Regions from separate parts of the Homo sapiens genome. Here region 1 is linked to region 2. A link means that fine-mapping ties the variant in region 2 to the expression of a gene that starts in the linked region. Tissue or cell type: whole blood. Region 2 holds a variant in brackets; the other region holds the start of a gene. All regions are shown on one strand. Distances are between the middles of the regions.

What was found. PIP is the estimated chance that this variant, and not a neighbour inherited with it, causes the effect.
Region 1: it holds the start of AAMDC, and the variant in region 2 is fine-mapped to the expression of AAMDC in whole blood (TOPMed, PIP above 0.99).

The regions. Positions count from the first base shown.
Region 1 is chr11:77,819,709-77,822,208 of GRCh38, reverse strand. It overlaps AAMDC (adipogenesis associated Mth938 domain containing), which reads right to left and starts at 1,065. Exons shown (of 4, transcript NM_024684.4): 1 at 968-1,065. RSF1 (remodeling and spacing factor 1) reads left to right here and starts at 1,487. Exons shown (of 16, transcript NM_016578.4): 1 at 1,487-1,681. The coding sequence starts at 1,495. RefSeq lists silencers at 1,028-1,187, 1,778-1,867, 2,008-2,097 and enhancers at 1,288-1,427, 1,438-1,607, 1,160-2,132, 2,133-2,500.
Region 2 is chr11:77,870,898-77,873,747 of GRCh38, reverse strand. It overlaps AAMDC (adipogenesis associated Mth938 domain containing), which reads right to left. Exons shown (of 4, transcript NM_024684.4): 4 at 1,396-1,573. The coding sequence ends at 1,433. It also overlaps a transcript of RSF1 not described here. Among named protein-coding and RNA genes, the nearest start is that of AAMDC, 51 kb to the right of the region's middle. The variant T/C (reference allele first, on the strand shown) is at 1,415.

The DNA.
Region 1 (2,500 bases), 51 kb after region 2:
CTCGGTTTCCCAAAGTGTTGGGATTACAGGCATGAGCCACCGCGCCCGGCCAAATTCTTTTTAGGAATTAGGTACTACATTGAGTTTTAAATGCACTCAGAAAATTCTCAAAGTAATAAATTATAGACTAAATAAATATAGCGGAATTCAGTCTAAATTATAGGAACTCCTTTTTTGATAACTAATATTTTTAAAGTACTCACTATGTGCTACGGCACTGTGCTAATCACTTTACTGTGATTTATCTAGTAATACCGTATGATGTAGGTACTATTATCACCCCACTCTAAGGAGTTCAAAGAAATAAAGAAACCTCCACAGTGTCATGAAGTAGCCCCGCTAGGACTCAGGCCTGGCTGAATCCAAAGCTCAGGCTTCTAAGCATAACGTGTACTGCTGCTTCTCAGGCTGCACATTCTATTTTACATTATTGGTAGTTTCTCTCTGGCGTTCTTTGTGGGAATGTTCACTGCCCCCGCCCCGCCCCGAAGTGGAACCCTGTCTTCTAACAAACTTTTCGCTGCTCCACCGTCTCCTGTCATGTTCCGCCTCTCAATGGAGTCCCAGCCCACACTCCGATTCTGGTCCCTGAACAGAGCCCCTTCCCCTCACACCATGGCCCCCTAGCAGAGCCTGGTCTCCTCAGATCCTCTTCTCCCAGCAGGGCCCCAACTCCTCACTCCGACGATTCCCCCAGAGTTCCGTTCCCTCAGATCCTGCTTTTCCAGCAAAGCTGCGATTCCTGTACCCCAGCAGAGAGCAATACCCCGTCGGCAAACTTCCACAGAGACATCTTACCGAGGTCCCAGCCCAGCCCCTAATTAAGGGCACACCTCTACCTTTCCCCTTCCCAACCTTCTCCCACAACTGTGCTTTCCCCCGCCCTATTCCCTTTTTCTGTTTATTAATTCTCCTCAACCTCTCCACCATCTCGTGGCCCAGTTTCAGGATTCCCCCGCAAACTCACCCACCGCACTGTCTCCTCAAAGTTGCGTTCCCAAACGGCGCAGTGCTCTGCCCGCACTTACGCTCCCAGCGCTGCTTCGGGATCTGCGCTCCCCAACTGCCCTCCGGGAATACGCCCTGCAGTTGAACAGCGCCCGAGGCCCCGCCCCCTCTGCGTCCATTGGCCATTGTTCTCGAGAAGTCCCGCCCCTCCCGCTTCCAGCCCGCCTCCCCGCCCCGCTTCCCTTGTTTTCATTCCCCCTGTCACACGAGGCAGTGGCAAGCCCGAAGGGGAGGAGAGAAGGGGGCGGAAAGAGGGCGGAAAGTGAAAGGCGCCGAGGGCCGCTCTGTCTCCCGTCTGACTCGGTTCTCGACTGCTCCGGGCCGCCGATGTATTGTGGGATCGCGGAGCCGTCCCTGAGACGCTGGGATCCGCAGAGGAGCCCACTTGAGAGCGCCTCCTGTCGTCTGTAAGGTTGCCTTGCCATCCCTCGGCACCACAACTTCCCCCGCCCCCCCATCGCCTCCTCCTCCATCCTCCAGTTCAAAATGGCGACGGCGGCGGCAGCGGCGGCGGTGATGGCTCCTCCGGGCTGCCCGGGTTCGTGCCCCAACTTCGCCGTAGTCTGCTCCTTCTTGGAGCGCTACGGGCCGCTGCTAGACCTGCCTGAGTTGCCGTTCCCTGAGCTGGAGCGGGTGCTGCAGGCGCCGCCGCCGGACGTCGGCAACGGAGAAGGTAAGCGAGGGGCCCGAACGCCCGGCGGGAAGCGGCCCTGGCGCTCTGCTACTCTCCGCTCTTCACAGGCGCCCCGGTTCTTCGCGGCTCGGGCCTCCGCGGCTCTGTCTTCCCCCTGGGACGCAACTCCGCCGGGCTGGTCTTCTCCGCCCAGCCCCCGGGGTCTTGGGCAGTGGGGAGGCGGGGCGGAGGCCCCCTAGGGCCACTCGGCCGGGCGGGGAGCTGAGGTGGAGGCGTTGCGGGCTAGGTGTGGGCTGGAGGCGGGGAGGGGTCATTGTGCCGGTCGGCAGCCCCGGGGACTGCTTCTCCGCGGCGGAGGGCGGCCCCCCACCCCGTCTCCCCCTTGGCGGCGGGGGAAGGGGAGCGCAGGTTCCGGCCAGCTTTGCGCTTTTCTCCTCCTCCCCACCCTTACTCCCTCCCCTCCTCCCACCAGTCTTCCCGACCATCTCGGGGAAGGCTGGGCTCGGCTGCTCCGGACACCTCCTTATCTCCCTTCACCTGGGTGGGCGGGGGCCAGCGGACACTCAACTCTCCCTCCCTCTGTTGGGAACTCCCCTGAGAGATTTGTCCCTTTTCCCTTCCCCTCGAGGGCTGCTTTAACCCCTAAAACTCCTTCCTTGAAGTGGGGAGGTCTGCTCCTCCCCCACGGGAGGGGGTTCTTCTCCATTCTCGGTAGGGGGGCGAAGTCGGTTCAGCTCCACTGTGGAGAGGAGAGGGTTAATTCCTCCTCCATAGTTCTCCTTCCTCTCCCCACCTCCCCCAAAATAATAGGCGAGCATCTCCCCACTTTTCCAATCCCTTCCCCCTTCATCTTGGCAG
Region 2 (2,850 bases):
ATGTCTTCCTTAATTTTCCTTCCATCCTAGTGGGATAAATTAGTCTTTTCTTTGTGCCACCACTGGACCTAGTAACTATTATAATATTAACATTGTATCATTATTGTTTACTTATTTGTCTTTCTCTCATACAACATAATTCCCAAAGGCAGGAATTGTAACATTCATCCTTATTCCCCCAGGGCCCAACAATAACTGGTCATAAGAAAATTAGTAATAGGCTGTCCGTAAATGGATATGAAAGAGAATTACTGAATAAATGAGTGAGATAGTTCCTTTGGGCTCCAACATTCTATGGCTCTTTGAAATAATAAGCTGCTATATTAAGAACCATAAAATGAAACTAGTTGGCTTTACACAGTATCCCCATTAATAGAAAGATAAGGACAACAGTGGTTTAATGTATTGAGTCCTTACTAAATGCCATGCAGTGAGTTAATACTTTCTATGAATTGCCTCATTTAATACCTACAATGACTCCAGGTACTGCTAATGTTATCCTGATCTGACAGATGAGAACAGTGAAACTAAGAAATTAGACAAATACCCAACCAGTGAGTGGCAGTGAGCTGCAGTTCAAAGTCAAGGCTATTTGACACCAAAGCCCATAGTTCTTTAAAAAGAAAGAAAAATTAAAAATAAGGTGATGCTGATAGCTTGTAGTTCTCTCAGTCTATTCTAAGGCTTCACAAAGGCCACCTCGGTATTTAATAGAACAAAGACTATCTGAGCCAGTAGGAACCTTTAAAGGGCATCTAGCCAGCCCCAACATTTTATACTTGAATTTTTTCTTTTTTGAAACGGAGTCTCTCACTGTCACCCAGGCTGGAGTGCAGTGGCACCATTTCGGCTCACCGCAACCTCTACCTCTTGGGTTCAAGTGATCCTCCTGCTGCCTTAGCCTCCCAAGTAGCTGGGATTACAGGCTCGTGCCACCATGCCCAGCTAATTTTTGTAGTTTTAATAGAGATGGGGTTTCACCATGTTGGCTAGGCTGGGGTTGAACTCCTGACCTCAAGTGATCTGCCCACCTCGGCCTCCCAAAGTGTTGGGATTACAGGCGTGAGCCATGGCGCCTGGCCTATAGTTGAAATTTGAAGCCCAGAGAGAACAATCTGGCTCCAGTCTCAGGGTTGGTTAGTAGAACAGCCTGTCTAGAACCCAACTCCCAGGGCATACTCCTACTGTTCCTGTTACTCAGATGTTCCCTCAGTTCATTCACTATATTATTAAACTTCTGTCTCATCTTTTTTTCTTTTAGCACCCTCAAGGACAGGGACCTTGTCTTGGTCATCCCTGCATCCCAAGAGCCTAGCACAGGACCTGGCATGAGTAGGTGTCCAAAAATGTTTAGGGGAGGCTGGTTTGGAGAATGGTGAGTGACAGTCACAGGCATAGGCACTTAGTGATTTAT[T/C]CTCCTCTTAAGGCTCCATCAGCAGGTGGAATGGAAGACACCTCCCACCCTGACCCCTTGGGCAACCAAGGCATTATACTCCTTCACTGCCTGCTCTGTCTGGAGGACCCGCACATCAATGCCATGTTTCTTGAGGTACTCCACAGTTGATGAAGGCACCTGGGAAGGTGGAAAAGAGATGAGTAAGTAGGGGGAAAGGCCCCCCAGGGGTTCCTTTACTGCCATGAGGCAGGTGTACTCTACAGAATTAGACAGTGACAATCGTCACTTCACGATCACTCAGTGTATCACCAGTCCAAAATTTGGCAGTGAGCCCCAATGAGTCAAAAAGGCCTCTTTGTCAGAGGTATCATAATACCCATGCATAAAGCTCAAGTGAAATGGAAATGAAAGAACATGGGATTTGCAGTTAGCCTTGGATTTACATCCTTACTAGCACTGTAACCTTGGGTAAGTAAATTAAATTCTCTGAGTCTTTGTTTTCATGTCTGTAAATTAGGGACATTAACACCTAGGGTTGGTATGACAACTAACTGAGCTAAGGGTATGTGAAACATCTACCTTGGTGTGCAAACTCCATAAATGTTAAATGTTTGAGTTAGTCTAAACTGAGTCTAAATTTCTTCTTTGCCGCATGCTAGCTAAGAAATGTTAGGCTAGCTCTTTAAAGTCTCCCAGCCCCAATTTCTTCCCTTGTAAAATAGGTATAATAGTACTTACATCACAGGGTTGGTGTGAGGATGAAATTGACTCATGTATGTACACTGCAGCTCAAATGTCTTCTCACAAAGGCCTTTCTTGCCCACCCCCTACTAGCCCAGCATAAGTCACCATTTTCCTCACTGCGTTTATTATTATCTGAAGTTGTCTAGTTTTTTATTATCCATGAGGGGCATGAACCTTGTTTGTCTTGTTTATCGCACCGTCACCAGTTTCTAGAATAGTGCCTTACCCATAGAAAATGCTTAATAAATATCTGTAAATGAATTTATATAAAAGATGTTCTTAATAGTGACAGCTATTATTAGATATTTTCTCAACTCTGGCTTGTCCTGAATATTTTTTAAAAATAGATTTTAATTAGACTCTGCCTCAGAAAGAACTCAAGTGAAATATTTTTTAATATGCCCTATATTTTCTATATATTTGAGATTTATAAAAGTACCCTATCAGATAGGAATTATTGTAATGGGGAAAACAAACTAGTTTAAAATTTTAAAATATAAATAGGCTGGGCATGGTGGCTCAAGCCTTTAATCCCAGCACTTCAGGAGGCCAAAATGGGAGGATTGCTTGAGCCCTACTGATGAAGGTGCCCTATATATATAAAGCCCTAGATGTAAGGGGCACCTTCATCAGTAAGGAACAGGACTGTAAGACATCTATAAAGGAAAGAATGAGGTAGGCCTCTATATGGATGACTATCCATAATACAG